Homo sapiens: one gene and its partners. The protein of the gene in region 2 purifies or fractionates together with the protein of the main gene of each other region. This does not show direct contact. Each region holds a gene or a part of one and is shown on either strand. Other genes may lie near its edges. The genes, in order: DNA2, PHF11 and SERPING1.

Region 1 (3,500 bases), on a different chromosome or scaffold from region 2:
TATACATTTTAAAAATTCTCAAAACTCAACACTACAAAGCATATAATCCAAAATGGGCAAAAACATGAAGAAGAGATACAGATGACAAATAAGCACATGAAAAACTCATTATGGGCCAGGTGTGGTGGCTCAAGCCTGTAATCCCAGCACTTTGGGAGGCTGAGGCAGGTGGATCACCTGAGGTCAAGAGTTCGAGACTAGCCTGGACAACATGGTGAAACCCCGTCTCTACTAAAAAAAAAAAATATGTGGCGCATGCCTGTAATCCCAGCTACTTGGGAGGCTGAGGCAGGAGAATCACTTGAACCTGGGAGGCAGAGGTTGCAGTAAGCCGAGTTCACACCACTGCACTCCAGCCTGGGCAATAACGTGTCAAAAACAAAAAAAAAACCCCACCACATTATGGCTGGATGCAGTGGCTCACATCTGTAATCCCAACACTTTGGGAGGCAGACAGAGGTGGGAGGATCATTTGAACCCAAGAGTTCAAGACCAGCCTGGACAACATAAAAAAATTGAAAATATTAGGCAGGCATGGTGGTACATGCCTGTATAGTTCTAGTTACTCAGGAGGCTGAGGCAGAAAGATCACTTGAGCCCAGAAGGTCAGGGCTGCAGTGAGGCGTGGTCTCACCAGTGCACTCCAGCCTGGGCAACAGAGCAAGACCTTGTCTCAAACACACACACACACACACACACACACACACATTTTAACTGGGTAAATGCAAATTAAAATCTCCAAACACCTACCAAAATGGCTAAAATTAAAAATAGTATCAGCTGGGCACGGTGGCTCATGCCTCTAATCCCAGCACTTTGGGAGGCCAAGGCGGGTGGATCACGAGGTCGGGAGCTCAAGACCAGCCTGGCCAACATGGTGAAACCTCGTCACTACTAAAAATATAAAAAATTAGCCAGGCGTGGTGGCGCATGCCTGTAATCCTAGCTACTCAGGAGGCTGAGGCAGGAGAATTGCTTGAACCTGGGAGGCAAAGGTTGCAGTGAGCTCAGATCGCACCACTGCACTCCAGCCTGGGCGCCAGAGCCAAACTCCATCTCAGAAAAAAAAAAAAGCCCGGCACAGTGGCTCACGCCTGTAATCCCAACACTTTAGGAGGCCGAGACAGGCAGATCACAAGGTCAGGAGATTGAGACCATCCTGGCTAACATGATGAAACCCCATCTCTAGTAAAAATACAAAGAATTAGCTGGGCGTGGTGGCAGGCGCCTGTAGTCCCAGCTACTCGGGAGGCTGAGGCAGGAGAATGGCATGAGCTGGAAGGCGGAGCTTGCAGTGAGCCAAGATTGCACCACTGCACTCCAGCCTGGGGGACAAAGCGAGACTCCGTCTCAAAATAAAAAAAAATTGTATCGCCACCAAATGCTGAGGAGATCACTCATACACGTGAAATGTTCCTGCTTAGAAAAACAGTTTGGCAGATTAAAAAAAAAAAATGAACATGCAACTACCAATCAATCCAGAAATTGTACTACTGGGAATTTATCCCAGGGAAATGAAGACTTATGTTACGCAAAAACCTGTAACATGATTGTTTACAGCAGCTTTATTCACAATATCCAAAAACTGGAAACAATCCAGATTTTCAGAGGGTGAATGGTTAAACACAATGCAGTACATCCATGCTATGGAAAAATACTTGGCAACAAAAAGGAACAAACTATTAATACGTACAACTATCTGGGGGAAGCTCTGGAGAATCAGGCTAAGTAAAAAACACCAATCCCAAAAGGCTATTGCATTTACTTAACATTCTCGAACGACCAAATTATCGAAATGGAGATCAGAGTCTCAGAGTCATGGCTGTCAGAGGTTAAGGAGGGGTAAGGCAGGAGAGTGGATACAACTATAAAAGTGCAACATGAGGAATCTTGTGGTAATAGAATAGGGACTGTATCAATGTCAACATCCTGGGTGTGACATTGTACTACAGACTTGCAAGATGTCACCACTGGATAAAGGGGACACAGGCTCTCTCTAGTATTTCTTACAACTGCATGTGACTCTACAATTACCTCAAAGTAAAATGTTTAATTTAATAAAAATGTTAACCAGATATACATCTTAGCCAGTTCTAAATTTATCAATAACAGGGACAGATATTAGACAAAAATATGCTAGCATTAGACAAAGGAGGTAAAGGAACACTCTATTAAATCTAATCTTTGGGAAATTTTTTAAAGACAAAAATATCAGTTAAGCCAGGCACTATAGCCGCGCCCATAATCCCAGCTACTTGGTGGAAGGTTCAATTAAAAAAAAAAAAAAAAAGCCGGGCGCAGTAGTTCACGCCTATAATCCTGGCACTTTGGGAGGCCGAGGCAGGAGGATAACCTGAGGTTGGGAGTGCGAGACCAGCCTGACCAACACGGAGAAACCCTGTCTCTACTAAAAATACGAAATTAGCAGGACGTGGTCAGGCATGCCTGTAATCCCAGCTACTTAGGAGGCTGAAGCAGGAGAATCGCTTGAATCCGGGAGGCAGAGGCTGCTGTGAGCTGAGATGGCGCCATTGCACTCCAGCCTGGGCAACAAGAATAAAACTCCGTCTCAAAAAAAAAAAAAAAAAATTAGTCAGGCGTGGTGGCGGGTGCCTGTAGTCCCAGCTACTCGGAAGGCTGAGGCAGGAAAATGGTGTGAACCCAGGAGGCGAAGCTTGCAGTGAGCCAGGATCGCGCCACTGCACTCCAGCCTGGGTGACAGAGCAAGACTCCATCTCAAAAAAAAAAAAAAAAAAAAGAAAAAAAAATCTGTTAAGAACTCCCAGTATAAATAAACATTAAATAACAAAATAAAATAAAAATTAGATTCTATATAAAAGCCTAGAGATAGTTATCACAAGACTATTAAGTACCATTGTTTCTAATTCAAACTTACTAAAAAACCCGGATTTTTTTTTTTTTTTTTTGAGCTGGAGTCTTGCATTGTCACCTAGGCTGGAGTGCAGTGGCGCGATCTCTGCTCACTGCAACCTCCGCCTCCCAGGTTCAAACGATTCTCCGTGCCTCAGCCTCCCAAGTAGCTGGAATTACAGGCGCCCACCACCACGCCCGGCTAATTTTTTTTGTATTTTTAGTAGAGACAGGTTTTCACCATGTTGGCCAGGCTGGTCTTGAACTCTTGACCTCATGATCCACCCACCTCAGCCTCCCAAAGTGCTGGGATTACAAGCGTAAGCCATCGCACCTGGCTGAAACCCTGATTATTAGTAGTTTCCTAGGATATTTGAAACTAGAAGAGAGCCCTAAATAATAAACCCAAAACCTTATTTCAGATCAGAAGGAAATAGCAAACTATAAGTTAATAAACTGGTCGTATAGTACATATAAATTAATCATGTGCAAATCCAGTCAATGTGACTAAATTTCCCAGAGTACAGTTTCTCCCCTCATTCTGGCTGTGGACATTAACTGTTAGTATTATTATACAATAATTGTGCTTACTTGACTATTGTAGAGTTCTTCTAGAAGAGCTAAGGATT
Region 2 (3,730 bases):
ATAGTGCTCTGGTTAATTATCTATTTAAAAAGTTAGAATCCTAATGCCATACTGTATTCAAAAATAAATTCTATGAGAATTAAAGACATAAATGAGCAATGTACTTTAAGTGTGCTTTAATTCAATATCATGATTAGGAAAGATACATGAAGGTAGGAAGTAGATTTTTTTTTTAAGGCGAAGAATGGAAAAAAGGAAAGAAATCTAAGGGAAGAAGAGGTAGGAAGAAAAGGCAAGAGGCAGAGAGAGGGAGAAGAAAGCCAGCTGTTGAGATCTCCACCCATGTGTCAGTAAGAGGCAAAGTTTTTGAACTGGTTATTTGCTATTTGGCCACAAGAATTCGTTTAAGATTTTTTTGCCCATTGCAATGTTCATCCTCTTACTTCCTTTGATTTTCTGTAGTAGAAAACAGCTTTTATTTATAATTTTCAAATTTTAGTTTTGAAAGAAAGATTTATTTTACCATTTAATGGGAAAAGTTTTCAATTTAGATGAGGTTAACTGCTTAAGTGATCCCTAAGTCTCTTCTGTTATCCAGATCTCTTCTCTGTCTCTTTAAGTTAGGTCTTTCATTTCACCAAGTCAGAAGGCTGCATTTGGAGCTAGCGTTTATTTCACATTCTGATCAGTTTCTTCTTTAATTTCTGTTTCTTGGATTTGGGTCCCACCTACCGGGGACACAAATTAACAGTCCCCAGCTTCCCACCAAGCAAGAAAAAAGGGTAAGATAGAGTGAAAACTGCTCAGACGGAATGAGCTAGCTGTTTTTTTCATTCATGTCTAACAACCAAAAATTTGGGAGTATCTTTTTTTTTTTTTTCATTTTTATTTATTTATTTTTTTATTATTTTTTTATTTATTTTTTATTTATCATTCTTGGGTGTTTCTCACAGTGTTTGTGTCCCTGGGTACTTGAGATTGGGGAGTGGTGATGACTCTTAACGAGCATGCTGCCTTCAAGCATCTGTTTAACAAAGCACATCTTGCACCGCCCTTAATCCATTTAACCCTGAGTGGACACAGCACATGTTTCAGAGAGCACAGGGTTGGGGGTAAGGTCACAGATCAACAGGATCCCAAGGCAGAAGAATTTTTCTTAGTACAGAACAAAATGAAAAGTCTCCCATGTCTACTTCTTTCTACACAGACACGGCAACCATCCGATTTCTCAATCTTTTCCCCACCTTTCCCCCCTTTCTATTCCACAAAGCCGCGATTGTCATCCTGGCCCGTTCTCAATGAGCTGTTGGGTACACCTCCCAGACGGGGTGGTGGCCGGGCAGAGGGGCTCCTCACTTCCTAGTAGGGGCGGCCGGGCAGAGGCGCCTCTCACCTCCCGGACGGGGCGGCTGGCCGGGCGGGGGGCTGACCCCCCACCTCCCTCCCGGACGGGGCGGCTGGCCGGGCAGAGGGGCTCCTCACTTCCCAGTAGGGGCGGCCAGGCAGAGGCGCCCCTCACCTCCCGGACGGGGCGGCTGGCCGGGCGGGGGGCTGGGGAGTATCTTTTTTTTTAGACAGAGTCTCGCTCTGTCACTCAGGTTGGAGTGCAGTGGCGCAATGATGGCTCACTGCAACCTCTGCCTCCAGGGCTCAAGTGATCCTCCCACCTCAGTCTCCCACCTCAGTAGCTGGGACCACAGATATAGGCCACCATGTCTGGCTAATTTTTGTTATTTTTTTTTTTAGAGACAGGGGTCCCATTATGTTGCCCAGGCTGGTCTCAAACTCCTAGGCTCAAGATCAGCCTGCTTGGCCTCCCAAAGTGCTGAGATTACAAGTGTGAGCCACTGCACCCAGCCTGAGAGCATTTCTTGTGTTTGAGTCACTATGTTGTGCACTCTAGACCGATGCTGTCCAACAAGAAACATATAACAAGACACAAATGTGAGCCACAGATATCACTGAAAACTTTCTAGGAGCCTCATTAAAAAAATCAAAAAGGAGGCTGGGCCTAGTGGCTCACGCCTATAATCCCAGAACTTCGGGAGGCTGAGGTGGGTGGATCACCTGAGGTCAGGAGTTCAAGACCAGCTTGGCCAACATGTCACTACTAAAAATACAAAAAAATTAGCCCAGTATGGTGGCACACACCTGTAATTCCAGCTACTTGGGAGGCTGAGGCACGAGAATTGCTTGCACCCAGGAGGCAGAGGCTGCAGTGAGCTGAAATTGTGCCACTGCACTCCAGCCTGGGCAACAGAATGAGGCTCTGTCTCAAAAACGACACAAACAAACAAACAAAAAACCCAAAAAAGAAACAGGTGAAGCTAATAATGTGCTTTATGCAACCAAATATGTCAAAGAACTTACATCCTTTCAACATTTAGTCAATATAAAAGTTATTCATTCTTTTGTACAGAGTCTTTGAAGTCCAGTGTGTATTCTGTGCTTAAAGCATGTCTCAATAGGACCAGTCACATTGTACGTGCTCAACAGCTATCTGTGGTGAGGGGCTCCTCTAGTGAATAGTAGAGCAGAGGACGTAAAGAAATGTGGTGAGATAGAACTGGTGTCTGCAAGAAGCTTACGAAATAAACAGGGAGACTAAATAGCAGTTAGGAAAATAAAATGGCAGAATTAAGTGTCACAAAGTGCAACTGCCAAGTGAGTGGGAATTCCAATACACGCTAAGGAGGTAGCCGAGGAAGTGCTCCTCGTGGGAAGGAGTATTGTCAAGGGCAGGGGCCTGGAACTGGTACAACCTGGAGAGGAGGGAAAGGTGGGGTGGGTTGGGGTATGGGCTAGGAGGAACACTGTAGAGGGAAGCAGCCATATGGGAAAAGGCCCAGAGATCGGAGCTGAGACAGTAAGGCAGCCAGGCTGAGGAGGAAAGGCTGCACAGGAAGCTGGGAAAGGATTTGAGAAACGTGTTGAAAGGCTGCCAAGGAGGATGTCTGAGCAGGAGAAGCACATGATGACAAAGTTGTTTAAGAAGGTCAATCTTGGTCGGGCACGGTGCTCACGCCTGTAATCCCTGCACTTTGGGAGGCCGAGGTGGGTGGATCACAAGATCAGGAGATCGAGACCATCCTGGCTAACATGGTGAAACCCCATCTCTACTACATTAAAAAAAAAAATTAGCTAGGCGTGGTGGTGCATGCCTGTTATCCCAGCTACTCGGGAGGCTGAGGCAGGAGAATCCCTTGGACCTGGGAGGCAGAGGTTGCAGTGAGCCAAGAATGTGCCACTGCACTGTGGCCTGGGCAACAAGAGTGAAACTCCGTCTCAAAACAAACAAACAAATAAACGTATTATCAAGGTACAGTTAGGACAGAAGGTTAGATGATGAAGTCAAAGGAAAGAACACGAAATGCAGAGAGAAGTGGATCATAATCTGGACTTACGAATGTAACATGCAGTAAGGTCACAATCCCATTTCTTCTCTAAGGCACTCATGTCCTTAGCCCATTTTTCTGTTGAATTATTATTTTCTTATTGGTTTATAACAGTCAGGGTATTAACCCTTTGTTAGTCATATATGTGGTCTTTTAACTTTGTTTATAATATTCTTTGATATACAGAATATTTAAATGTTTTACTTGATGAAATTACAACAATCATTTATTTTATGATTTCTGCTCTTGGGTGAGATGGACATAGAAAACACTTACCTCTGTTTTCTTCTAGAATTTTAATTTATTTTAATTAATCAATTTATTTATTTTGAGACAGGGTCTTGCCCTGTCACCCAAGCTTGGAGTGCAGTGGCATGATCATGGCTCACTGCAGC
Region 3 (3,730 bases), on a different chromosome or scaffold from region 2:
TTTTTCGAGACAGGGTCTCACTCTGTCACTCAAGCTGCAGTGCATTGACATGATCTCAGCTCACTGCAATCTCTGCCTCCCGAGTTCAAGCAGTTCTCCTGCCTCAGCCTCCCAAGTAGCTGGGACTACAGGAGCCCGCCACCACACCTGGCTAATTTTTGTATTTTTAGTAGAGACGGGGTTTCACCATGTTAGCCAAGCTGGTCTCGAACTCCTGACCTCAAGTGATCCACACCCTCAGCCTCCCAAAGGGCTGGGATTACAGGCATGAGCCACAGCGCCCAGCTGAGGAGGTTATTTTTGACCATTCTTTGCTCAGTTATTTATCCACTCATGGACTTATCCACCCATCTATCCATCCCTATCTAATGTATTTGACCATTCATGACTCATTTAGCAGAACCAGGACAGCCTGTATAAGGCACAGAAGAGTGAATATATGTGACAGGTCCAGAGCATTGTTCAAATTCAAGATACGTTGGGGGAGGTATAAATATGAGATTTTTTTCAAATCAATTGGAATGGCTATTTAATCAAAGCCATAGATGTTAGGTGGAAAGTAGGAATTAAGAACTTAACAAGTTAGGTTTAAATGTAACTATTCGAATTATAAGAACAAGTATTTCCTCTCTAAAAATGTTTTTAAAGTTTCACACAAAACTCTAAACCAAAAATCATTGTAAAAATCCCTTGGGAGTAGACTGTTGAAACCATTGAGGTGAGGTGATAGGTTAAGGTGAGCATTCTGGACATATAATATCAATAATAAATATTCAAATACAAAGCAGGTATAATATGAAGAGTAATTTCTATCTCCCCAAGCCAATATGAGTTTTGTTTGTTTGTTTGTTTTTCTTTTGAGATAAAGTCTCATTCTGTTGCCCAGGCCGGAGTGCAGTGGCACAATCCCAGCTCTCTGTAACCTCTGCCTCCCAGGTTCAAGCGATTCTCCTGCCTTAGCCTCCCTAGTAGCTGGGATTATAGGTGCCTGCCACCACTCCCAGCTAATTTTTGTATTTTTAGTAGAGATGGGGTTTCACCATGTTGGCCAGGCTGGTCATGAACTCCTGACCTCAAGTGCTCGTCCGTCTTCGGCCTCCTAAAGTGCTGGCATTACAGGCGTGAGCCACTGCACCCAGCCTGAGTTTTTTTTTTTTTTTTAAGCCAAAGGAGGAGGAGTAGTTTTGTGCACAAAAGCCACTATTTAGAGTTCCTTAGGTTTTAAACAGATAATTAATTTAATGTACTAACAAATGCAAAATTAAAATTTTACTTATGCCTTTTAATTTTAAGCTGAACTTGCTACATTAAGAGTAGGGTGATTTGGCTGGGCGCAGTGGCTCATGCCTATAATCCCAGCACTTTAGGAGGCTGAGGCAGGTGGATCACTTGAAGCTAAGAGTTTGAGACCAGCCTGGCCAACATGGTGGAATTCTGTCTCTACTAAAAATACAAAAATTAGCCAGGCATGGTGGCACATGTCTGTAATCCCAGCTACTCAGGATGCTAAGGCACAGAATCACTTGAACCTGGGAGGCAGAGGTTACAGTGAGCCAAAATCGCGCCACTGCACTCCAACCTGGGCAACACAGCAAGACTCTGTCTCAAAACACAAAAAAAGAATAGGCTGGGTACAGTGGCTCACGCCTGTAATCCCAGCACTTTGGGAGGCCGAGGCAGGTGAATCACCTGAGGTCAGGAGTTCGAGACCAGCTTGGCCAACATTGTGAAACCCCATCTCCATTAAAAATACAAAAAATAAGCCGGGTGTGATGGTGCACGCCTGTAATCCCAGATACTTGTGAGGCTGGGACAGAAGAATCGCTTGAACCCGGGAGGCGAAGGTTGCAGTGAGCCGAGATCATGCCACTGCATTCCAGCCTGAGCGACAGAGTGAGACCTTGTCTCAGAAAAAAAAAAATAGGGTGATTTTTATATAAAAACACTCTCATTTGTTCTTGAATTAATTGCCATATTGAACAGATTAAACTCCTTTAAACCATTTTTTCTATCTACAAACATAATTAGTATTCCCATAAGCATTTTAAGCTCCCTTTAAAAATTTAATATGCTCGATTTTCTTTTTTCTTTTATTTATTTATGTAGTTTTCCCAGACAGGGTCTTACTCTATCACCCAGTCTGGAGTACAGTGACACAATCCTCACTTACTGTAACCTCAAGCTCCTTGGGATGAAGCAGTCCTCCCACCCTAGCCTCTTAAGTAGCTGAGATTCCAGGCATGAGCCACCTCACCCAGCTGATTTTCTTTTTAAACACATCTAATACCTGACAGGTCGTAATTACGACTGTGCTTGGCCATATCATCCTAACACCTAAAGCTCACTTGTAAACTGAAAATTAAATTTGAAGGGTGAATTAACTTCTAGCCAACATTCCAATATCATTCTCACATTTAATGAAATTATCCTACAACTTTGCTTAAAAGCATAAAACTAGCATGTCAGAGTCTCTTAAAAATTACAATCACTATTTTAAATAACAAACATACAGGTTACCCTGAACTTAACACCTGGTTTTAACATGATGAAGTTGGTTTCTTTTGTCATTCTTATACTAAATTCTAAATCTTCCTGGCACTTAAGGATATTTACCCAAGGAAGGGGGTGAGATTTACCGGCTCAGGTACACCGAGGTTACTGGCTTGAAAATTCAAGACCACAGCATGGTAAATTTTTCTTCAGAGATTCAAGGTTCATACATAGGACTTGAAGGGCACATGCTACTCAAATGAGTATATCCAACTTGAGTGCTACATCAACAGGGACCCCATGTCCACTCTTTTCAGTCGAAATTGGCTTACTATCTACTTCTTCTGGGCTATTCAGGTTCCGACAATTGATTGCTTTCAGTTAATTTCTTTATTGCCCAGTTGAATTCTGCATTCTTCTAGATTCTTTTTGTTCCTTCAGCCTCAATCATAATACCATTTAATGACAGTCTCATATCCTATTAGACTAGGGTTTCTCAGCCTTGGCACTATTGACATATTGGGTCAGATAATTCTTTGTCCTGTGCATTGTAGAATTTAGCATCTTCCTTAGCTTCTACTCACTAGAAGCCAGTAGCACTGTGTGCACATCCTCCTTGCCCCCTGCCAGCTATGACAACCAAAATGTCTCCAGACATTACCAAATGTCCACTGAGAGGCAAATTCACTCCGAGTTGACAACCCCTGTATTAAACCCAGGGGCCCTGCACTTCTTACATACTTTTGTCTGGTCACCAGTTGAAAGTCCTTCTTCTTTTTTTTTTCTCTTTTTGAGATGGAGTCTCGCTCTGTCACCAGGCTGGAGTGCAGTGGCATGATCTCGGCTCACTGCAGCCTCCACCTCCCGGGTTCAAGCAATTCTCCTGCCTCAGCCTCCTGAGTAGCTGGGATTACAGGCACGTGCCACCACCCAGCTAATTTTTGTATTTTTAGTAGAGGTGGGGTTTCATCATGGTGGCCAGGATGGTCTCAATCTCTTGACCTCGTGATCCGCCCACCTCGGCCTCCCAAAGTGCTGGGATTACAGGTGTGAGCCACCGTGCATGACCAAAAGTCCTTCTAATAGCAAAGTGGAAAGGTAGGCTGTGAACAATCTTGAATGCCATACTAAGATTTGTACTTATTCTCATAGGCAGTGAAGAGCCATCAATAGTTTTTACAGAGGCTGACCTGATAACTCTGGCGGTTCAATGTGCATGCTATATACTATATGCACAACA

Evidence for each region.
Region 1: the proteins of PHF11 (region 2) and DNA2 purify together in Homo sapiens (affinity purification with western blotting, with the first as the bait; one study listed by BioGRID). This does not show direct contact.
Region 3: the proteins of PHF11 (region 2) and SERPING1 purify together in Homo sapiens (affinity purification with mass spectrometry; one large-scale study listed by BioGRID and IntAct). This does not show direct contact.

What each region holds. Positions count from the first base shown.
Region 1 is NC_000010.11:68,426,974-68,430,473, forward strand, and holds part of DNA2 (DNA replication ATP-dependent helicase/nuclease DNA2), read right to left. Parts: coding exon 3,463-3,500; intron 1-3,462. UniProt on the Homo sapiens protein: Key enzyme involved in DNA replication and DNA repair in nucleus and mitochondrion.
Region 2 is NC_000013.11:49,502,237-49,505,966, reverse strand, and holds part of PHF11 (PHD finger protein 11), read right to left. Parts: intron 1-3,730. UniProt on the Homo sapiens protein: Positive regulator of Th1-type cytokine gene expression.
Region 3 is NC_000011.10:57,607,672-57,611,401, forward strand, and holds part of SERPING1 (plasma protease C1 inhibitor precursor), read left to right. Parts: intron 1-3,730. UniProt on the Homo sapiens protein: Serine protease inhibitor, which acrs as a regulator of the classical complement pathway. Forms a proteolytically inactive stoichiometric complex with the C1r or C1s proteases. May also regulate blood coagulation, fibrinolysis and the generation of kinins.